Homo sapiens: one gene and its partners. The protein of the gene in region 2 purifies or fractionates together with the protein of the main gene of each other region. This does not show direct contact. Each region holds a gene or a part of one and is shown on either strand. Other genes may lie near its edges.

Region 1 (3,500 bases), on a different chromosome or scaffold from region 2:
ATAGTGTATTTTTTATAAATATAGTATTATTTATATAGTATATTATATATTATTTATACTATATTATATATAATATAATATATATAATATATAATAGTATATTATACTATTATAATATTATACTATATATTATATATTATATAGTATAATATAGTATAATACTATATTTTATAAATATAGTGTTATTTATATATATAAATACCTTTTTATTTCATTTCTAAAATTATAGTAAGTATACTTTGTCTTAGAGGAGAGAACCCAGAAATGCCAGGCATTATTTTCAGGCATTTATTACTAGGTATTATTTTCATTTTGACACATGGGCATTTAGTCTTCCCTGACAACTTACACAAAGGGAACAAAATAAATGATCTAGATAAAGAACAATTGTGGAACTGATCGCACACTGGTGACTTTTAATAATTCAAACTTCTCAAAGTAGATAACATCTATTATGTCAGAGTGGATTATGAATATTCTGATGACTTTTAAAATGTATTAAGGGTAATGTTAATTTTTAAACCACATTGTTTCTATACCTATAATTAAGATGCAAAAGCTGGTCTCATATCCCAGCTAAGAAAAAAATCTGCTGACATTTAAGTTGAAAATGATTAGGCACACTATGTACAATTTGTATTCAATAATTATTAAATTCCACAGCATTCAAATGACAAAATAGCAAAGCCTCACTCTATTTTAAAACGGTGATATAGGTGATATAAGAATCTTTCCAAGAATATACCACTTTGTTTCACCATGCTGCTTTCAAGCTCGACAATGGCAATCATCATAGGTTAGATAAAATCTTCAAAGAACTCTAGTCTGACACACTAAAGAGCAGCACAAGCAGGAAAATATGGCCTAAATACATGGAGAAAAATCCCATTACTTTTATACTTCAGAACATTCTAACATTTTTATACCATAATCATAAACTACCAACAAAACTACAAGTTACAAATATTTATTCTTGCTTTCTTTTTCAAGGAAGCCACTGAAATGATGAATAGATGAGGAATTGGAAATTATCTACCTTTCACAGTAATAAGAGGAGAAGAAAAACTTTCTACAAAATCCAGTACTTTGCTTCTTCCCCTGCTAAAGTGCTAACAAGAGATACAAAGACACCATCGTAGGTCAGTATGGGTGGCTCCTCTAGCCCTCCTACCCACAAAGGTATGCCATGCTCAAATTTAGGAGACAGAAATAAACTTTATGGCCTTTATTGTTTCACACATAAGTGTGGAAATATTTCTTAACATAAAGCCAAATTATATATATATAACAAAGCAAATACTAATTCCTCTGCCTTTGCTGAGTCATTCACTTAGCACCATACCAGGCCTATAGAATGGACTTAAGACAAAATTACTGATTCACAAGTAAGAAGATACACAAGAATATGACCTAGAAAAATGTGGAGCTTAATAAACAATAAACTTTAGAGATGATTGTAGTGATCTAATTTTCTTAATAGAATCTTCATTTATGTCTTTGAGAAGTGTATGGAGTCAGAAGTTCAGCAGCACATTTCATTGTTGTTATCATAACTTAAACTTAACATGCAAAGGGGAGTCAAATCAGCTATCTCAACTGCTGCCCTTGGCTTGCGTGGTCAAGTTGGCGAAGCAGAAATCATCAGTGGCTGGCTTATGTGATTATGTCCACCCCATTCCCCTCCTACCAATCCCCTTTCTGGGAGATTAAACTGATCTCATCTCTGACCCTAGTTCAATTTAACACAAAAGTATGTTAGACAACACCTAAGGTACACTTTAACAATTAAGCAAAAAATTGTTCATTTGGTTTTTTTTTTTTTTTTTGGTTGGTGGGGATTCGAGATAGGGTCTGGCTCTGTCACCCAGCCTGGAGTGCAGTGGCACAACCATAGCTTGCTGCAGCCTCAACCTCCCAGGTTTAAGCAGTCTTCCTGCCCCAGCCTCACTCTCTCGAGTAGCTGGGACTACAGGTTTGTGCCACCATGCCTAGCAAATTTTTTAATTTTTTTGTAGAGACTGGGTCTCACTATGTTGCTCAGCCTGTTCTTGAACTCCTGGACACAGGTGATCCTCCCTAAGCAAAAAAACTTTTTAAACTCTTTGCAGATAAATGATGCTACGTCTAATATTATTGCTGATCATATTGCTTTTTATCAATATTTTGCAATACTTGAATTTTTTACAATTAAAGCAATGAAATTTAAAGCCATTACTTTTGGTTCTAATATTTATATGTTATTTCCACATCATTATTTTTATGTGAACTTTATATCTTTAAAAACACCATAAATAAAATATTAAAGAAAGTTCTGATTAATAAGACCCTAAGGGCAAGGTTTTCGAGGGATTTCACATTGAAGATGTTGAAGAAAAAGACTCATCTCTAAAATGAGCTAGGAATAAATTCAAGTCGAAGATAAGATAAATCTAATGATTCTTCATAAAGACAAAATAAATCTTCAAGAATTGGTTTATTATATCACTTAGTGGAAGATATTCAGTAAAGGTGAAAAGCATTTCTAAGTGGGATAAGAATTAGTAAATTGGGCTTTTTAAACAATAGTTTGTTTTTCAACATCTCTACTTCCAAGTATAAAAGAAAACAAACAAACTGCAAACTAAAGCCTTAAACTAATTTTCCCTGGCACCAATAACTCCAGAAGTATTTGCAGTTTCTTCTTACAGATGCACATCAAAAGTAAAGACATAAAAACACAAATACTAACATACGTTGCATTAAACTGGTCTAATTAGGAATTAGATGACAGCTTTCATTGGTTTCCCATTGCCTACTCATCCCATACATGTGGATATAAACAATAATCTTTCCTTAAGTCAACTTACTGAGCTCATGATTTTAAAAAATTACGTTAATTTTCACAGCATTCAGGAGAAAAAAATAGACTTTTGAAAAAACTCACTGAAGAAAAAATATTAAAATAAGTTGTTTTTATATAATTCTTCAAGTGTTAAAGTACTGTGTGAGCCACTTGGACACACTCACGCAGAAGGCTGTTCAGTAAAAATCGCTTCTATTTGAGATGGAGGGGAATTCTAGAAGCTACAGCTACTTGCACTAAGAGTATTGAAGCAATTTTGCCTTACGGTGACAAGAAACTTCAGAAGTAAGCCAGGTTCACAGGTGAAGACCATGGTGTGCACTTAAAAGAAAACAAGTAGCCTGTTCCAGCCAGGAGGCAGAGTGGCAGCATTTTCTGGGCATCATGGTTTTTATTCCAGTGGATGTGAAGATCCCAAGGAAAGCTAACTACAGAGATCTAGAATGGTACTGACAGGTAGGAATGCTGCTGAGAACCAATTCCAAGAAGAAAGGTCAAGGTAATGTGCAGAGGGAAAAAATATTATTGGCTACAAATGACTCTGAGAATCAAAAATAGCCATAATAATTTAGTTGCCTTATTTTGTGTTTGTAGGCAAAGAAAATCTAAATTAATAAGAACACTGCTCTCAAGCCTTTTACCCAGAATATGATACCTT
Region 2 (3,500 bases):
CTTAGCCTCCCAAACTGCTGGGATGATAGGCATGAACCACCTTGCTCCATATGATTAATTTTTGTATTTCTCCACAAATGTGTGAAGTTGGGTAAGTGTGGAAGAACAGTGCTATAAATTAGATTTTGTGGATTATTTCTATTTTCAACATTTTTGTACTGCACAATTTCAGAGTCAAAATTTTATGTATTTTAAGACAGAAGGGAGAAAACTGTGCTTATAGCATAATATTGAAATTAATGCTAACTATAATTTTCATATTTTTAATATTTAGTAAAATAACACACCTGATTTTTCTTGTTTTTTGTATCACCCAAACATTAAATCTTATATGTTAAATATGCTAAAATTTTACCAAGAGGATAAAGGAAACAGACAAACAAAAACCTCTTAATGCTTTTTGGAAAGAAAAATAAAAAGTAAAATAAAATTAGAAAGAAAAGAAAAATAAAAGTATTATTCTTCAGCGTTCCAGGCCTTGGCAAAGTTCGAATCAGAAAACACAAGGTCTGGCACAATCCCCTCTTTATTTTGTCCAACAGTTGGAGCAGTTTATCTACAAGTATTATGCAACAACCCTGTTTATGCTCAGAGATACGTTCCATTCTTTATTTGCTCTTCTACTTTTGGTATTTATTTACATTTGCTTGTCCCTAATCTGTTAGGCTACTCTTTGAGCAACTTGATTTTAACTGTCACCATAAACAAAAACTGTTCCTGTATAAATATTACTTGAGAAAGATGTTTACTTTAAATAGAAAAGAGAAGGTAATTCCAATTTAAGTATACTGTTTTGTTTTAAGATGCAACTATTTACCAGAACAGAATGGGAAGGGGTGAAAATAGTGCCTTTCGTTCATCATGTAGTCACTTCAGTCATTCAGACAGTATGGGAAGACCTTGTCAGAATTGAAATTTTGTTTGTTTGTTTGTTTGTCTGAGACAGGGTCTCACTCTGTCACTTGGGCTGGAGTGCAGTGGGACAATCATGGCTCACTGCAGCCTTGACTTCCTGGTCTCAAGTGATCATCTCACCTCAGCCTCCTGAGCAGCTGGGACTACACGTGTGTGCCACCATGCCTGGCTAATTTTTATTTTTTGTAGAGACAGTGTCTCCCTTTATTGCCCAGGCTGGTCTTGAACTCCTGGGCTCAGGCAAACCTCCCACCTCAGCCTCTCAAAATGCTGGGATTACAGGTGTATGCCACTGAACCCAGCTGAGCTGAAGATTTTTGAAGTATGTTCTGCTTCCAAAACAGTAGTATAAAACAATAGTGCAATTTTTTTTGTATTGGGGTGGAGACATTTAACATGAGATCTACCCTTTTAACAAAATGTTAAGTGTACAATACAATATCCTTAACTATAAGCACTATGTTGAACAGCAGAACTCTAGGATTTATTCATGTTGCATAACTGAAACTTCGTTATCTGTTGGATAGCAACTCCCCATTTTCCCCTTCCTCACAGCCTCTGACAACTACCATTCTACTCTGCTTCTGTGAGTGTGACCATTTTATACATCTCATATAAGTGGAATCATGCATCTGTCACTGGCTTATTTCTTATAGTGAAATTTAAAGTATTTTTGTCTCCAGGTCTTATGGGTAACCTCTTTAAGAGGATATTTCCACTGCTATATCCTCCCTACTTCTGGTCTCTTTATCCCTCATATTCTATAGGAAGTAATCTTTCTTTGATCTAAGATATTGGAATATAGTTGCTACTTTAATCCCATATTATTTGTTCAAAACATTCTTCTTTATGAATCCTCATTAGCAACTGAATAGGCAGAATTGGAGCCTTCCAGTTGAGATAGTTAAAGAGAACCTTGTCTTCAAAAAAAATGTGTACAAACTTTAGGCAAGAGAAAAAATGAACACAGAAGTTGCTTTATATTTACAAAAAGCAATAATATTAGGAGAACACAGAATTTTCCACAGGTTAAAATATATTTTACTTATAACTTACCATTCACTTGTGTAAGCTTTAATTCTGGAGATGATAAATAATACTGATCACAGAGCATCCTTGAACACTCAAAGGCATCTGGAATAGAAGTTGTTTTTTATAACAATGAAATGAGTTTATGCCAAGTACAGTTCTCAAATAATCTTCAGTGTCTGTATTACCCTAATCTAAAATATTCACTAAGGTACAGGTTTATGTATATAAAAATATATTTTAATATTTTATTGAAGAAAAATTAAGACAGTGTTTGCATTGCAGTTTTAGCAATATGTGCACTTCAGAGACTAAATACAACATATAAAATATGGCATGTTAGTCACTTATATTTGGATTTTTAAATAATATTTTAGAGGAATGTTTATACTACTGACTCTCAAAAGCAAAGGACCTTGAAGATAACATTTATAAAATAAATGGAACACTCTGTGAATATAAATTCATTCACAGAGTCACCTCAATTATAGATATGTCAATCATATATTGTACATTTTCAATAAGGGAAGTGCAGAAATACAGAACATACCTTGGACCACTGCTACCACATCACAGTTAGGATCAATGCTTCCAATGTGGCTTGGGTTTCCTGTCTGTGAGTCACTAAATATAAGAACTGTTGAAAAATAAAAACAAAAAAAAATTGTTATAAAATTCAGGATAATGATTAGTACTATCACTGAGAATGTGACCCGCTGATTAGTGAGACATCTAGTTATAGTATGGCTTATATTCTACACCCATGTCTATATACCATGATCATGATGAGCTAACTTACTGTGCTGGTTCATCAGCATCCGAGTAGAAATACGGTTCATGTAAAATCGATCCAAGAAATATTGAAGATTTTGATTGGTGACTGGGTCAACTGTACAGGCATCTTTATACTCTATGATTCCTTGTGCCATTGTAGGGACTACATTATGGTGTCTATTTCGAACTTTGATGAGTGTATCTACAAAGCTAAGCCACAATATTTATGGTTAGTAAAAGTTCAAATACGTTTCATTCACTTATACTCCTAAGGTTACTTCACAGAAGGCTAAAGTTTTTTTTGCATTACCCATCTGAACAAATCAAATGATAAAACATTAGTCCTTTATTAGTAATCTCACTACAGATTCTTCCACTAGAGTAGAGGAGATAATTTCACAAACAGACTCATTTTGTTTCTAGCTTATATGTAAAACTATTAGCCTTATAACCAATGCATTCATCAGATGTATTCATTAAGTCTTCTCTTTATAAAATAATGATTAATATCTAATATCATCATTCTAGAGATGACTCTAGAATGCCATTGTGAAAAAACTTTCAAAATTTCTTGTCAGATTTAGAAAAGATCCTTATTTAGGTAGCTAGAAACTATCAGTTACTCTGAAAGAAAATGTTTAGTCTCCAATGACGCTGAAATGTATTAAAACTATGTAATGGTAAATCCTCCTACACATCTCATTATTGGAGTAAATTTATAGTAAAAATAGGTCTCCCTGGGGGATCAAAAATGAGTCCTCTACATTTCTTCACACTCAGCA
Region 3 (3,500 bases), on a different chromosome or scaffold from region 2:
TTTACCCTTTCTCTCAAAAAGAAAATTTCTAGGTCTTTCAATAACTTCAATAAACCAAAATCCCTATGTATATATTTCATCCTAATCATGAAACTTGTATCTTTTGATATTTGGTTCAGGTTTAAGAAAGATAATATCACAGGAGGGAGGGGTAATCTGCTAATGTGATCTTTGGTAGAACGGGCTAAGAGCTATAAAATAATTTCAATCACAGGAGGCATTTCTTTTTCAATTCTCTGGCTTTAATATAAAACATCTAGCCAGGTGTGGTGGCAAGCGCCTGTAAACCCAGCTACTGGGGAGGCTGAGACAGGAGAATCGCTCAAACCTGCGAGGCAGAGGTTGCAGTGAGCCGAGATTGAGCCACTGCACTCCAGCCTGGGCAACAGAGCAAGACATCATCTCAAAACAACAACAACAACAACAAAAAATCTAATTAAATGCATGGTTAATTCAAGGCTCATCAATTATTCCCTCAGCTCCCTTAAAATCTAGTAACCATCTTCTGTAACAAAATTCTACAGTGTCAAGCACTAAATATATGTATGAATGTATCAGCAATAAGATGACAATCAAAGAATGCTGTGAAGATTGGCATCAAGATGTTAGCAGCATACTGCAGGACTAGGCTTAGAAGCCTACCTGCAGTTTATTTGTAAGGATTTTTCTTTTGGGGGCGGAGGGGAGAGAAAAGTAAATGTGCTAACTTAGGATACTTGCCCTTATAAAGAATTCCTTTGTATCCCATGTTCATCGTATTTAAGGACCTGATGTTTCTAATCACCACAAAATCTGCTACCCATATGAACATTTAGGAAAGTTTAGGTCTTCACAATACGGGTTCTGCCCACTTGAATTCTGACTTGAAAACAAACCAATTTATAATCAACTCCTGAAAGGGCCAAAATAAAAAATAATAGTTCTTCCTTCTAAGGGCATGTATTGGGGAACATGCCACAAGACCCTTTGGTAATTCATAAATCAGCCTCCTTATGCCAAATTTGGTTTCATAATAAACATTAAAGGAGAGTCCTGAATTTGACAATTATAAATAACTAAAATGTCAAACAATAATTGTTTGAATGGGGTAAAGTATTTCATTCTGTAAAATGCAAATTCTAACTGGACTCTCAGCAACCTGCATGGCAAACATAAGGAAATATGAGGAGGCTTCCAGCAGGGAAAGATAGAAGACTTTTTCCTTAGGAAAAAATAAATAAATAAAAAAATTAATAACCTGTATATAACTTGTCTTTTTTTTTTGGTATAATCAGTGCTTCATAAAGGCATCCTAATTTTTATATCTTTAAAGACAACCTACCATGAAATAAGAAGAATCCATAATTATAATTCTAAAAACCATGTAATCAACTTGTGTCCATGAACTCACGCATAGCAGCATCCTCTACTCAGGGACACATTATGTTGCTATGAATCCTTTTAAGAATTCTTTGAGTTTTTCTTCCTTTCTACTTCTACCTCATTATATCTACACCTTTCTTAACTACCTTGCAGTCAAAAGCCAAACTACCTGGGATGCTGCTCCTCTAGTTTGTCTTCAGCTAAGGATAGAGGCAAAGAATGAGGGAAGGGGAGGAAAAAGGGAGCAGGGATACGAGAAACAGAAAGGAAGAAAAAAGAATCCTTTTATTTTCCACCCTCTCTTCGCCCATTTTTTTTCTTTTCCCTTCACTGTACATCTAATTCTTTTGACCCACTTCAATTTTCATCATAGTAGGTAGAGCCACATCTTGAGAAACCTTAAAACTATAGATTTACTACAAAAAAGATGAGCTAATACAAAGTCTAAAGTAAACTAAAAGAGGGGTTGATTTACATCTGGCACAACTTAGTCTTTGTTCCAATCATTTTAGAAGTCTCAATTTAACTCCAGGCTAGACTCCAGTTTGTTCTGGGCCTCTCAGGAATTATGTTTTGTCATTTACATTGTATCAGACAGACTACCTCTCAAAAAATGTATATCTTAAATCTTACGGATGTGAAACAGGTAGGGAAGAAATAAGTATAGACTGTATTAGCTCACAGGATTCACACTATAAAGTACACTGACTCAAATTTTCTCTAATCATTCATACTCGCACATTCACTCAAGCATACATACTAGACATAAAAATTGTGCAAGATCAAGCATCAGCTTTCTATTTTAAAAGCCTTAATTTAAAAAAACTTAGATAGGCTCACTGCAGTTCCTTTAAAGGAATATTCAGTACTACAGTACTGCTTTAAGAAAAAATTCACAACTCAGTGTTAAGAACACAGTAGGTAACTGCTGCTTGACAATTACTTAACATTACTGAGAGCATCCAGTGCCAGCTTATGGATATCAACAATAAGGAAGAACCACTGGACAACATAAAGAAATAATCTGTAAATGATGTCACCAAACCTAACAAATTTGTTAGTATTTACCAAGACATGATATTATTCATCCTTGCTTCATGATCCATGAAATAATTAAGATTTTTTTAGGCTACATACTGAAGAGCAACACCTGCTCTCCCGCACAAAAAAGGGTTGCCCACATGGATGCTCTAAAACCCCTCAATGTATAGCTGAGAGGTCTTGTCCTACTCAGTGCCAAATGTATGCAACGCAGTCACTGCTTGGGCAATGGCTGCACATTAGTAGGATTAAATAAATGTATAAAGTACCTTCTTAAAATGGTAAGGGGGTAGTCCTGCATTCATATGTGGAATAACCCAAGAAATGGAAGAGGAGAAAAAGGAAACAGTCCTTAGGTTACTGATTAAAGCAAGGTTTGATACAGATATCCCCTCTTGTAGGCACTCAGCGGGTAGAATGTAGCCACAACAAACTTCCCATCAAACATCCTTCCAGTCAGTAATTTCTGCGCAGCTTTGGAATCACCAGCATTTGCATACTCAACAAAGACCTGAAAGAAGACAGAGAAAAAAACATTTCATTTCCACCAAGATTGTTTTAGACCAGTGCTTTACCACCTTTAATATATATACATCAACTGGAGATGTTATTAAAATGCAGATTTTGCTTCCTTAGGTCTGAGATGTCGCCTGAGTTTCTGTTCTAAACAAACTTCCAGGTGATGCCAATGCTGCTGGTCTATGAACTATACTTCAGGACAGCAAGGTTTAGAATACTTCCTCACAACTCAGCTCAACTTTGAAAAATCTCTCAAGGACAAGTTGTGTGAATCATGTACAATCTTTTGCTAAGGTCGTTACAGGAGTGATGAATAACACTAGACATCTGCCAAAGATACGGCTGAATAGCTCAGACAGCAACTGCATTTCAATGGTACCTGGATGATAATCTGTACTTTTAGCAGTGAAAAAGGAAAAAATATTGGTCAAAAGCTGCTGGAAATTGCACCTATTAGGAAGTACAATTTGGCTGGGTGCAGGGGCTCACTCCTGTAATCTGAGCACTTTGGGAGGCCAAGGCAGGTGGATCACGAGGTCGGGAATTCGAGATCAGCCTGACGAACACGGTGAAACCGT
Region 4 (2,741 bases), on a different chromosome or scaffold from region 2:
AAAAGGTATTTGGTTAAAACAAGAAATATGCATGCTCTTCCTTACCACCTTCCTGGAAAGAACTGCTTTTTTTTCTTTCTTTCTGTGAATCTTGTTCAAGACATCCTGTAGTTTAGATATATGGGCTGCTTCTTTTTTACCCTCAAGCTTTTAGGTGACACTTATAAAGGTGAGCATATCATTCTATAAAATGAAAGATGCTCTTGGCATCCTGTTCTTAAACAGATTAGAACTTTGGTAAATAAGACAGATTAAAGATGTACTAAAATGTTTGAATTAATTTTGGTGATCATGATGCTATTACAAAATTAGAATCGCCCAAAGCAACCATAGTATAAAAGTTCTCATCTGCCTACAAATTTAAAACTTTAGTTCAAGCTTCTGGCTTCCCTAGTTAATTTCTCTACCTACAATTCACACAGTTCTCCAAACATGGTATGACTCAAAGGGAAAGGCGTAAATGAATCTACTACACATTAGAAAAGTGACCTTTTTTAAAGGGTAGGGCAGGTGGGAAAAAGAATATCTCATCAATGTGAGAATTCACATTTCTGTCAAAATGTAAGTATGTATGAGTGCTATTTTGAAAATGTGCCATAAAGTCTTTGCTTGCTATAAAAACCATTATTTTCCAAAAACTGGTCAGCATATTTTGCAAAGCTATTAAAATATCTCAGAAACAGAATAAAAAAGCTTAGAATCAAATAAGCATTGGGACACAGTCAATTTTATCATTAGAAAATCTAGCCATGTATTAGGAATGACATAATGATGTGGTTATATGCCTCTGGTTCTTCAAAGAATGTATTTAGCCTATTCTTCCCTGTGCTTTCTATAGTCTGCTGTTTCATACTAAAAGTATAGATGGCATTAGTGATTTTTAGAAACGCTTGGAAATGCAAATATAAACTTAAATTTTCACCCATTTAACAATATAAACTTAGAATTTTAAAATGGAACACTATATTTGCCCATGTTCCAGTTTTAATGTGCCACATCCTCAATTCTAATATAATCTACCATAGAATCAAGTGATATGAGCCTTAGATATCTTTCAACTTTCTCCCTTGCTTCTCTGTGATTTAATATATAACTTTAAGACACCAAAAAAATAGGGGCAAATAAGAAACAGCTTTTATATTTTTGCCAACTACACTAAAACACAGTGGCTTCTTTAATACATTCACACAGGATGCTAATTAGTAAAATTAAATACCTGCCTATGAATATCAGAAAAGTAATTTGAAAAGAAAGAGCTTGGAACAAGGCAAATGGGAGGGGAGGAAAAGCTGGTCTCAGAACCCATTGTGCCATACCTGACTTCAACATGTGATATTCAAACGAATGTTCACACGCCTTACATCAAAGAAATGAAACAAAAATATTCAGCTATGTTATTATACAAAATTTTTTTTACATAAAACATCATAAATCTGGAACAGATTTACTATATCTGAATTCTAAAAAGTTGCCTATAGAATGGTGCTGGGATTCTGTTCTCTGCTTGCTTTTAGGCAGTGCTGTTGCTTAAAAGTTGACACCAGGCACAATATTTTAAAACAAAATCAACGAGCAAGGAGCAGTAGGTGGATCTGAGCCTTTCCCAGATGTCAGGCCTGAGGATGCTGCAATATTCCCCATCAAAATGTGTAAAGCTATGAGGTGGATACTGATGCCTGAGAGAGTGGGTGACTTGACATGCACTTGTATGACTGTAATAATGGCAAACAGTACAGTTTTCTCTTCCTCAAACAATACTGTTTTAGTAAATTTTAAGAACATTCCGGTTCTTAGACAAATATCGAAATAATATTTAACAGTTTTAAAAAAACATGTATCACATTCTAAAAATGCCCAGATTTTCTTTTATCTTCTGATTAAAATATGCAGCAGCCCAATGGCATAAAGCTTAACTCATTCTGATAACTAGAAAGTATATGAGCATATATATTTTACTTTCATTGAATATATATATATATATGTCATTCACCTCTTCCTTTTGGCTTCTCACTGCCAAAGTTCCAAATGGCATGCGGTTTAACAAGACAATGCTGAGGAAAGCAGCATTTCTGATCATCTGAATTGGCAGCTCAAAACAGATACCACTCCTTTTACAAAGGGAACAAAGGGTGAAGGGTATGTGAAATTTGGGCAGTGGGCTAAAGGGAAACCGTGCACATGAAATTTGGGTTACCATGCCCCAAGTGTGTACCACCCAAAACATAACACAATTACCTACTTCAACAGAGCTACTACCAACATTTACTAAAACCACATTAAAAATACACAGGATAATGAATGGTTTGAAAGAGCGCATTTGAAGCAGAGAGAACCCAATTACACACCTTCCTGCAACAGAGTGCCTCGATCATACACAAAATAAACTTAAGCTGTTTACAATGTTTCCCATTTTTTTTTATTTTTTCCCTCTACATTTAACTATTAAAAAAGTTTTTTATTAATAAATGGGCTCCTCTGTGGTTCATATACAATCATAAGTGAACTTTAAATTCCATTTTATACAAACATCTCAAAAAATATTGGGAGTGAAGTATGGTAGGAAATATTGCTCACATTGCTAATTAACATGCGTATATGAAAGGAGGAAAATGTTTTGTTAGTGCATATACCTCCAGAGCAGAAAACCCACCCAAAACAAAAGATCTAAAATAAAACATACAGTAGCTGATTACAAAAAAAGGTAATGTCCACAAAATTAAGTTTTTCATGCTATTCTACTT
Region 5 (3,500 bases), on a different chromosome or scaffold from region 2:
TGGGCACAAAAAGAATGATACTGTTGGCAATCTATACTGCCCACGTTGATCAGTCCAGTTAATGTCTGTAAAAGAAAAAACAGATTACCTCCATAACTTTTTACATATGTTTGCAATAAAGAAATAAGCATTGTATTATTATGGTGAAACAGTTATTATATTATTTATCAGTGACTTTTACCCAATAAAAATGGATAAGGGTTTAACATATAATAGACCATTTATACTAATGAATTTGTAATCTAATTTTGTAATTAAGTACTTACTAAAATTATTGCAGATTAAACAATTTATTTCATTTAACTGTTACATGAGAAAAAACTATATACTTCTAAAATTCAAAGTGCTAGAAACTAATGAAAGTCTTTGCAATATTTCAAAGTATTCTTTCCAATGAAAACAAGCTTTGTAGGTGTCTAATGTGTTATACTGACTCACACCTGAACTTAAAAATTTTATTGAAAAGAGCACAAAAATATGTAATCCTAAATGTTAAGATACTAGAAATCACTTTAACTCAGATTTAGTGTTTTATCTTGTAAACAAATGTGAAGTAGTAATTGCATTTTCCATTCTGGTATTTAAGTGATTTGTTTCCAATCTTCTACAACTTAAAACATGGTGCCTATTTTCAGGAAATTTTCTAAATACACATGCTGAAAGCTTTTTTTTCTTACTTTTAAGTCCTACAGTATGTCAGGAAATGATATTTTTAAACTCTAAAAATAAAGCAGGAAAAAAATTAGAAAAAATTGAAACAAATATGAGGTAAATTTTTGGGTTGTTGTTGGCAACAGTTTAGTCAAAAGTACTGGATATACTGGGCACGGAGGCTCATGTTTGTAATCCCAGCACTTTGAAAGGCAGAAGTGGGCAGATTACTTGAGGCCAGGGGTTCAAGACCAGCCTGGCCAACATGGCAAAACCCTGTTTCTACTAAAAATACAAAAATTAGCTAGGCGTGGTGGCACATGCCTGTAATCCCAGCTACTAGGGTGGTTGAGGTTGCGGTGAGCCGAGATTGCGCCACTGCACTCCAGAGCGAGACTCTGCCCCCTGCTACCCGACCAAAAAAAAAAAGTGTACCAGATGCTATACACACAAAAATGGTAGGCTATACCATTCACACACCAGACAGAAACAGAGCTGGAATCAAAGTGGTATGATCAGTACTGTTATTAAGTAATAATTTAGTTGTGGGTTCATTCACATCCGTTTCAAAATAATTCTGTTAAATAAACATTCTTAGTAAATGTTAAGATTTAAAATAAACTATTTTTACTATACCCGGGCCATTCTTTTCCATTCTGGCATTAAGACTTGGCAAGGATGACACCACGGAGAATAGAAATCAACCATCCAGACTTCGTTGTGTTTTCTTTGTGTAACTAGTTCGTTGAAGGTGGTGGGTGTAAGGGAGACCACTGAAGGATTCATAAGATCCTGAAGAGAATATAGCTTCCATTATAACATATATATAAAGCATAGCTGTTCATATATTCCTGGCAAATTGTTGGTACAGGTTGAGTATCTCTTATCCAAAATACTTGGAAGTATTGAGAATTTTGAATTTTGGAATATTTGCATATATCTTGGGAATGAAACCCAAGTCTAAACATGAAATTCAGACTTTGGAGCATTTCAGATTTAAGATTTTTGGATTAGGGGTGCTCAATCTGTGTATGTCCTTTAGAAAGTTCCCATTTTTGAGAAACCAAAAGATGCTTAAGGATAGCTAAAAGAAATCCAATGTGAATTATCTTAAAATATGAAAATAAACCTAACTTAGATTTTTAAGTTTGGATTTTGCTCATTAGTTTTGTAAAAAATCAAGGTCTATTTATCCTTTATCTCTATGTATCACTAAAATCATAACAGGCAAAGAGGCAACTTTAAGTTTCTGCATGGATAATAAAAGAGTTTCAAGGGCTGCCTGGATGTCTACAGAGGCCATAAAGTTCTGTTCTAGAACCAAGAATGACTGGTTTGGAAATGATTCTTTAATTACTAGTGGAAAGCCTACTATCTCATTTTTCTGACATTCTGACTGGAGATACTACACCTTTCTACAGATTCTTTGTTCCAAATGATATTTTAACAAAGCTTCAGCCTACAACAGTCAGGTAATACTGATGAAGAGGCTAGCTTCACTGGGAAAACAAGACAAAACATTACGTCAGAGGAGGAGGAACAGGTGAGTAGGACAGGGTTGGAGGGTCATCAAATGGATAATAATAAACTAGAAATTTTCTTTTTTTTTTTCTAGGAGTCCCCTGTAAGTATTTCTATCAAGAGTGTTACTGAGAAAAAAAAAAAAAAAGATGCTGTAGATGCCAGACACTTGTTTTCAGAGAAAACAGTGCAAAGGGGTGACAAGGTGAAAATACATTGCATATGTTCAATAAATAATTGTGTCCATTGTTTATAAGGCACTGTACATACCAGGTAACAAATAAAACACAGATTTACTTTGAGTTTACAGACAAGTATATAAGAAGAGTAAAACATTAGAAAAATTCTTTAAAAATCATTTTGTAAGAAAATAGTTTGGGCATGAAAAGAGTAAATCCTATTAAACAATATGAAACATTCATACAGGGTTTACATAGAAACAGACAAATTTCTAGTCACATAGTCTATAATCTGAAATACCTCTATGAACTCCAAGATTTGTTCAGCAGAGTGATGTCCTTCATACTCATGAATGTTGGACTGGTTGAATACCACTGTTGTTGGATAAGCCTGAATGTTATACTGATAGGAAGGAGAATATGAATTAAAGATTTTATAGATTTCACCTATTTGTTACAAATTTATAACAAGTTTGCCTTTAAGTAACAAGAACAAGATTTTAAAAACCCATTTCTAAATTTCTGGTGACAAAAATTTTAGTCTCACCAAATTTAGCAAAGGACTTATGGTGATGAATACTGCTAAATACTGATGAATACCTGATCCTTATTTATAGCTGCTCCATTCGCCATGAGAACCATAGGCATTGAAACATTGAGAAATCGGCATGGGTAATTATACGAATGGTCCCTTTTTACTCTCCTGAACCAAGGTAAGAAGAGGCTATAAACAACAGGCTATATCTCTAGCTTGAGTCTTTTTTTTAAACCATAATAAATACTTTTTCTAGAAATAGATGATGATCAGGAAATAAAACAGCAAGAATAAAGACACAAATAATTAGGGGGTACATGATTATATTTTAGGTTAAAGAATTATGAATCATGCCCTATGAATGTAATCCCTTTTTATTCTTCTTCAAGATAGCCTTTATAGTAGGAAATGCTTAATTTCCTTCTCAGAATTAAAATGGGCACCAGCCCAGGAAGCCTCTCTCTAAAGCTTTTATTTTTATTTTTCAAAAAGTTATAAAGAGATCCTTGTCTGTGGATTTGCTGTAGCTGAACTTTGCACTCTTAAAGTTTTAAGTACTCATTAGCAAACTGGAATCTTTGACCAGGATTCAAAAATAATTTTTGAAAAAACAA
Region 6 (3,500 bases), on a different chromosome or scaffold from region 2:
TTTTTCATGCATGACCCTCTTCTCAATCCCATGAGGTAGAGACCATATAGCATTCTGTTTTAGAGACTCTTAAGATATTCTTTACTTGCTCAAGGTCATGCAGCTAGTAAGCTGTCAACCTGAATGTAAACCTAATTCTGACTCCAAAATTTATGCTCTATGTCATTATTTATGCTCTATGTCAGTATTTTTCAAACCGAGTTGTAACCCATTAGTAGATTATGAGATCAGTCTATGGTCAAAATTCACTTAAATAGGGAGGAGACTGAATAGAAAATATCAGGGTACAACTTGTGTGGTAAGAATAAATGTTGTGAAATAAACTGTGAAATTTTGCTTCAGGAATATACACACATGTATATATACTGGGATATGATATTATCCCAGGTTACTGTCAAAATAGCTTGATAGTAACTGCAATACCCTTTTGGCCTCTTCCATTCTACTTCATAAACCTTCCAATCATTAAATAAATTCACATAATTAAGCACCTAATAGAGTACATAACTGGCACATACTAGGTACTCAATACATAGAAACTGTTGTCACTGTAACTTCAAGATGACTATTCTGCCTACAGACAAGAAGATTACAGCACCAGGGGCCAGGGAAACTATTTCAGAGTCATCTGACAAGACTGGACCTTTTCTTTTTCTGCCCTTTGTGAACAAAATCAGACTGTACCTTGACAAGGGTGGTGATCAAGCGCAGAAAGGCAATAGTAACCCCATACTCGCCCTGAGGCTGTTCACTGTTCATCAAGAGGTTTCCGTACCCTCCAGCATTCATCCCTTCCGCACTGGAAAAAGAAGTAGAGGGAAAAAAAATGATAGGGAAATTTCAAGGTTTCAAGAAACTAATCATAGAGCATTCTTGTTATAGTCTAGATGACTTGAATATAAAATAGAAAAGCTCTCCAGTGGAAATAATCCAATCAAGACAGTTCTGTACCCAGGGTAAACATTAAGAACATGTTTTATTGATGTAAAACCTAGATTGAAAGTAAAAAAATCAAAGGAACATCAGGGAAACATTTTTGTCAAGAGACAGCAAGGCGAGAATGCTCAGGTAGTAAGATGGAGCCTGTGTACTGGTAAGTGGTCTACTGGCTGAGCTCGAGAACCCATGAAATGAGAAAAAGTACAGAGTGATTGTGGCTTAATAACGGGACACCAAGTCCCTGAATCTAGAAACCTCTGGATTTTCTGGGCTGGAAAGTAAATGCTCACATACTAACGTGATTGATGTTGGATAAGAAATCTCTCTTGCTCTCGGCCGGGCACCATGGCTCATGCCTGTAATCCCAGCACTTTGGGAGGCCAAGGCAGGCGGATCAGTTGAGGTCAGGAGTTCGAGACCAGCCTGGCCAACACGGTGAAACACTATCTCTACCAAAAATGCAAAATTACCGGGGCGTGGTGGTGAATGCCTGTAATCCCAGCTACTTGGGAGGCTGAGGCAGGAGAATCACTTGAACCTGGGAGGCGGAGGTTGTGGTGAGCCAAGATCACGCCATTGCACTCCAGCCGGGGCAACAAGAGCGCAACTCCATCTCAAAAAAAAAAAAAAAAAAATCAGGCCAGGCGCGGTGGCTCACGCCTATAATCCCAGCACTTTGAGAGGCTAAGGCGGGCAGATCACTTGAGACCAGGAGTTCCAGACGAGTCAGACCAACATGGTAAGACCTCGTCTCTATTAAAAATACAAAAAATTAGCCGGGCGTGGTGCCGCACATCTGTAATCCTGGCTACCGGGGAGGCTGAGGTGGGAGAATTGCTTGAACCCGGGAGGCAGAGGCTGCAGTGAGCTTAGATCGTGCCACTGCACTCTGGCCTCGGTAACAGAGCGAAACTCCATCTCAAAAAATAAAAAAAGTAAATAAATACATAAATAATACAAAAATTAGCTGGGCGTGGTGGCTCGAGCCTATAATCCCAGCTACTCGGGAGGCTGAAACACAACAACTGCTTGAACATGGGAGGCGGAGGCTGCACCACTGCACTCCAGCCTGGGCAACAGAGTGAGACTCCATCTCAAAAAAATAAACAAACAAATACATAAAAATAAAATTAATAAACCTAGGCTAGATCTGAGACATATGTGGTTCTCACTAGGGAATATGGCCCACCACCCTAGGACTTGGCTCACCTAATCATCTGACTCAGGCTGGAGACAGGATGGGCCACAAATGGTAAAAAACCTGTGTGACGAAGATCAGTCCAGACCTGAGAAGGAAAAGGAAGAGTTAAATGCCCACATATCTTCAGGTATGTGCCAAGTGCTACATTTTTGGCTCTTGGGAAGATCTGGCATCTCACCTTTGCTGGATTGCGGGCAGCCAAAACAGTTAAGCAGTTGACACAAGAAGCAATGACATCCACAGGTGGGGAGATCACTGTCGTTAACCTGGTTGGAGAACAATACACTATACTCAATAAAGCAAATAATACAACTGGTTCCCTCACAAACATTTTTCCACTTCTCTCTCCCCAGTCTCTCCCCTCAGCAGACATATAAAAACAGGAAAACCCTCACAGATATAAAAACAGGAAAACCAAGGAATATGCGCGAACTTTAACCCAGTGGGTATGTGTCCAGGTTCCTGCAAACTGAGGGCACAAGTGCTGAGATCTCTACTGGGCAGCTGAGGGTCAGCCAAGACAGACTCACCGCTGCAGCAGCATGTAGATGCGAGATGTGATGGGCAGGAGACAGTCTGCTATCGACAGGTCTGTACTGATGACCTTATGGACGAGATCAATGATGGGTTTGACTCGCTGGCAGTGCTGAATCACATCTGAGAAGAAAGACAGCCTGTGACCTCACGGCAAACAACCCCTTTAAGATCACTGAACAGTCTCTGAGACCCAGATACACAAATCAGACAAATCACAATCTTGATGGTTCTAAATTTTATGTAGATATTCTATTTTCTAAATCCTCCAAGCATATCCACTTTTCCTCCTCGTAGGTGATGTTTCCGAAAGCTGACCTTACCTGCAGTTGAAACAACATGAAGCAACATTTCAATCTCGCAGGTAAAGAGGGTCCAGCTGCTATAGGAGTATTCCCAGCGTACCAGGTATGCCCTATCATCCAACATTACTTGGCCCACAGTGCCTTGAGGTATGCGAAGGTTGGTTTGACCCCCTGAGAGAGAAAGATAAATTAGTCTAATATCTGAGGATAAATAAAAAATGTAACTCCTCTACCAGACATCAATATTTTAAACACACAGAGATACACAAACTCACAGACATTTTTTTTTTTTGAGACAGAGTCTCCCTCTTGCCCAGGCTGGAGTGCAGTGGCGCGATCTCGGCTCGCTGCAACCTCCACCTCCTGGGTTCAAGTGATTCTCGTGCTTCAGCCTCCCAAGTAGCTGGGACTACAGGTGCGCACCACCACTCCTGGCTAATTTTTGTATTTTTAGTAGAGATGGGGTTTTCCATGTTGACCAGGCTGGTCTTGAGCTCCTGGCTTCAAGTGATTTGCCTGTC
Region 7 (3,500 bases), on a different chromosome or scaffold from region 2:
GTCCCACCTCTTAACAGGATTACAGTGGCAACTAAGTTTGCCATTGTTCTCAACTCAAACTTGAGTTTTGAAGGAGATAAACACTGGAATTTTTACTGGAAGTGGGCCCTGATCCAGACCCCAAGAGAGGGTTGTTGGATCTCGCACAAGAATTCGAGAGAGTCGCCAGGCGCGGGGACTCACGCATGTAATCCCAGCACTTTGGGAGGCAGAGGCGAGCGGATCACGAGGTCAGGAGATCAAGATCCTGGCTAACATGGTGAAACTCCATCTCTACTAAAAATACAAAAAAATAGCTGGGTGTGGTGGCCTGCGCCTGTAGTCCCAGCTACTCGGGAGGCTGAGGCAGGAGAATCACTCGAACCCAGGAGGCGGTGGTTGCAGTGAGCCGAGATTGCATCACTGCACTCCAGTCTGGGCGACAAAGCGAGATTCCATCTCAAAAAAAAAAAAAAAAAAAAAAAGGCGAGAGAGTCTATAAAGTGAAAGCAAGTTTATTAAGAAGGTAAAGGAGTAAAGAATGGGGTACTCCATAGGCAGAGGAGCTGCTTGGGCTTGTCCACGAAGGATACCTACAGTTAGTTATTTCTTGATTTTATGCTAAACAATGTGTGATTATTCATAAGTTTTCAGGGAAAGGGGGACCCCTAAGGTTCCTCCCCTTTTTAGACCACATAGGGTAACTTCTTGATGTTGCCATGGCATTTTTAAACTGTCATGGTCTGGTGGGAGTGTCTTTTAGCATGCTAATGCATTATAATTAGCACATAATGAGCAGTGAGGACTAGCAGAAGTCACTCTCCTCTCCATCTTAGTTTTGGTGGGATTTGGCTGGCTTCCTTACTACAACCTGTTTTATCATCACGGTCTTTATGACCTGTATCTTGTGCCCACACCCTATCTCATCCTGTAACTTAGAATGCCTAACCTCCTGGGAATGCAACCCAGTAGGTCTCAGCCTCATTTACCCTCATTTTGCCCCTACTCCAGATGGAGTCACTCTGGTTCAAAAGTCTCTGACAGAACTGTAACAAGAAGTATAATTGTTACTCATTATTATAGCTGTTTGAGGATTAAATGGGATGATAGAAGTAAAGCCTGTAGTACTAAACCTGGTATATAATAAGAACCCATTTAATGTATTCATTTACTCAACAAATATTTATTAAGTAAATTTTTTTTTTTCTTGAGACAGGGTCTTGCCATGTCATTCAGGCTGGAGTGTGGTGGCATGATAGCTCACTGCAGCTTCAACTTCCTGGGCTCAAGTGTTTTTTTTGTTTTCATTTTTATTTATTTATTTATTTTGAGATGGAGTTTTGCTCTTGTCACCCAGGCTGGAATGCAATGGCATGATCTTGGCTCACTGCAACCTCCGCCTCCCAGGTTCGAGTGATTCTCCTGCCTCTGCCTCCCAAGTATCTGGGATTACAGGCGCCCAACACCATTCCTGGCCAATTTTTTTGTATTTTTAGTGGCGATGGGATTTCACCACGTTGGCCAGGCTGGTCTCGAACTCCTGACCTCAGGTATCTACCTGCCTTGGCCTCCCAAAGTGCTGGGATTACAGGCATGAGCCACCATTCCCGGCCTACTTACTATTTTTTTTTTTTTAAATGTTGGATGTATTTCATTCTGTGGTAGTTTCTTTTTTTTTTTTTTTTTTTTTTTTTGAGAGACAGGTCTCACCCTGTTGCCCTGGCTAGAGTGCAGTGGCATGATCACAGCTCACTGCAACTTCCGCCTCCTGAGATCAAGCAATTCTTCTACCACAGCCTCCCAAGTAGCTGAGACTACAGGCGCACACCATCACACCCATCTAATTGTTGTATTTTTTGGTAGAGATGGGGTTTCACTGTGTTGGTCAGGCTGGTCTTGAACTCCTGACCTCAAGTGATCCACCCACCTCGGTCTCCCAAAGTGCTGGGGTTACAGGCGTGAGCCACTGCACTCGACCAGTGGTATCATTTGTTTTGCCGCTCCCCTAATGCTGGATGTTTCCAGCTTTCTACTATTTTTTAAATGTTTCGATGAGAGTTGTTCTCTATGCATGTGCAAGTACTTGTCAGATTATTTCCTTATAATAAATTCCTAGAAGGTGGATTGCTACAAACAAGAAATGTATGTATTTTTGATACTTTTGATTTACATATTCAGAATAATATCCTGAAAGAACATACCAGTTTTCGTCTCACCAGCAGTAAATCTGAGTACTTACAGTTTTTAGTATACAGAGTTGATATATAATGTACCTTTAACTCTTAACAAATCCTGACAAAAAAAGGAGATTGTTCTGTTTATTTAAAAAAAAACTACTTAGTTTTTAACTTTTATCTTTTTCTAGGTTACAGTTCCTCTGAGTCATCTCATCAATGCCTTCCATACACCAAAAAACACTTCTGTTTCTCTCAGTGGAGTGTCAGTTTCTCAAAACCAGCATCGAGATGTAGTTCCTGAGCATGAGGCTCCCAGCAGTGAGGTAAGTCTTTATCCTGGTTGTGTGAGAAAGCCTTTTTGATATACAGTTGACCCTTAAACAAATGAAGGATTAAGGATATTGTCCCTCCCCCGTAGTCAAAAATTTGAGTATAATTTTTGACTCCTGAGAAACTTAACTACTAATACCCTACTATTGACCAGGAAGCCTTACCGATAAAATAAAGGGTCCATTAACATATATTTTGTATATTTTATGTATTGTGTACTGTATTCTTACAATAAAGTAAGATGGAGAAAATGTTATTAAGAAAATCATAAGGAAGAGAAAACATATTTACCATTCATTAAGTAGAAGTGGACCATCATAAAGATCTTCATTATCTTCAAGTTGAGTGGGCTGAGGAGGAAGAGGAGGGGTTGGTTTTTCTGTCTCTGGTGGCAGAGACCGGAGAAAGTCCACGTATCTGTGGATCTGTGCAGCTTTAATCTGTGTTGTTCAAGGATCACCTGAGGTCAGGAGTTCAAGACTAGCCTGACCAATATGGTGAAATCCCATCTCTACTAGAAATACAAAAATTAGCCGGGTGTGGTGGCGTGCGCCTGTAGTCCCAGCTACTCAGGAGGCTGAGACAAGAGAATAGCTTGAGCCTAGGAGGCAGAGGTCGCTGTGAGCCAAGATCGCACCACTGCACTCCAGCCTGGGTGACAACAAGACTCTGTCTCAAAAATAAATAAATAAATAAATATAAAAATGTAATCTCATTTTTTGGTTTAATCTAAAAAAAAACACCTGTTTTTACAGGGAAGTGGAATAGGTAGGGATTTAAGAAGTAAATAAAACTCTTAAAAAAATAAAGGACCAGCAGATTTAGGGAGCAGCTCATACTTCTAGGGCTGAGATAGAGTCAGGAAGAGTTCTCCATCCCCAGGGCTGAGATCCTGACATTGTTGGCGAAGGCATGGCCTTGGCTCACTGAATGGTAGAAAAGTTGCTGTGATGTCATGCCAGGGTAACGTGCTAGAAATCTGGGAAGTCTGCCCTCTAGGATACTGGGAAAAGC

The links.
Region 1: the proteins of PDK4 (region 2) and FRK purify together in Homo sapiens (affinity purification with mass spectrometry; one large-scale study listed by BioGRID and IntAct). This does not show direct contact.
Region 3: the proteins of PDK4 (region 2) and UHMK1 purify together in Homo sapiens (affinity purification with mass spectrometry; one large-scale study listed by BioGRID and IntAct). This does not show direct contact.
Region 4: the proteins of PDK4 (region 2) and CNOT6L purify together in Homo sapiens (affinity purification with mass spectrometry; one large-scale study listed by BioGRID and IntAct). This does not show direct contact.
Region 5: the proteins of PDK4 (region 2) and DNAJC10 purify together in Homo sapiens (affinity purification with mass spectrometry; one large-scale study listed by BioGRID and IntAct). This does not show direct contact.
Region 6: the proteins of PDK4 (region 2) and NUP188 purify together in Homo sapiens (affinity purification with mass spectrometry; one large-scale study listed by BioGRID and IntAct). This does not show direct contact.
Region 7: the proteins of PDK4 (region 2) and YME1L1 purify together in Homo sapiens (affinity purification with mass spectrometry; one large-scale study listed by BioGRID and IntAct). This does not show direct contact.

The regions. Positions count from the first base shown.
Region 1 is NC_000006.12:116,054,392-116,057,891, forward strand, and holds part of FRK (tyrosine-protein kinase FRK), read right to left. Parts: intron 1-3,500. UniProt on the Homo sapiens protein: Non-receptor tyrosine-protein kinase that negatively regulates cell proliferation.
Region 2 is NC_000007.14:95,590,017-95,593,516, forward strand, and holds part of PDK4 (pyruvate dehydrogenase kinase, isozyme 4), read right to left. Parts: intron 2,929-3,500; coding exon 2,744-2,928; intron 2,582-2,743; coding exon 2,495-2,581; intron 2,050-2,494; coding exon 1,972-2,049; intron 1-1,971. UniProt on the Homo sapiens protein: Kinase that plays a key role in regulation of glucose and fatty acid metabolism and homeostasis via phosphorylation of the pyruvate dehydrogenase subunits PDHA1 and PDHA2.
Region 3 is NC_000001.11:162,521,818-162,525,317, reverse strand, and holds part of UHMK1 (serine/threonine-protein kinase Kist), read right to left. Parts: intron 2,915-3,500; coding exon 2,768-2,914; 3' UTR 1-2,767. UniProt on the Homo sapiens protein: Upon serum stimulation, phosphorylates CDKN1B/p27Kip1, thus controlling CDKN1B subcellular location and cell cycle progression in G1 phase. May be involved in trafficking and/or processing of RNA.
Region 4 is NC_000004.12:77,715,628-77,718,368, forward strand, and holds part of CNOT6L (CCR4-NOT transcription complex subunit 6-like), read right to left. Parts: 3' UTR 1-2,741. UniProt on the Homo sapiens protein: Has 3'-5' poly(A) exoribonuclease activity for synthetic poly(A) RNA substrate.
Region 5 is NC_000002.12:182,754,257-182,757,756, reverse strand, and holds part of DNAJC10 (dnaJ homolog subfamily C member 10 isoform 1 precursor), read right to left. Parts: intron 3,055-3,500; exon of another isoform or gene 2,952-3,054; intron 2,755-2,951; coding exon 2,653-2,754; intron 1,444-2,652; coding exon 1,288-1,443; intron 66-1,287; coding exon 1-65. UniProt on the Homo sapiens protein: Endoplasmic reticulum disulfide reductase involved both in the correct folding of proteins and degradation of misfolded proteins.
Region 6 is NC_000009.12:128,982,199-128,985,698, reverse strand, and holds part of NUP188 (nucleoporin NUP188), read right to left. Parts: intron 3,151-3,500; coding exon 2,998-3,150; intron 2,798-2,997; coding exon 2,671-2,797; intron 2,407-2,670; coding exon 2,319-2,406; intron 2,226-2,318; coding exon 2,149-2,225; intron 800-2,148; coding exon 685-799; intron 1-684. UniProt on the Homo sapiens protein: Component of the nuclear pore complex (NPC), a complex required for the trafficking across the nuclear envelope. Required for proper protein transport into the nucleus.
Region 7 is NC_000010.11:27,147,885-27,151,384, reverse strand, and holds part of YME1L1 (ATP-dependent zinc metalloprotease YME1L1), read left to right. Parts: intron 1-2,344; coding exon 2,345-2,479; intron 2,480-3,500. UniProt on the Homo sapiens protein: ATP-dependent metalloprotease that catalyzes the degradation of folded and unfolded proteins with a suitable degron sequence in the mitochondrial intermembrane region.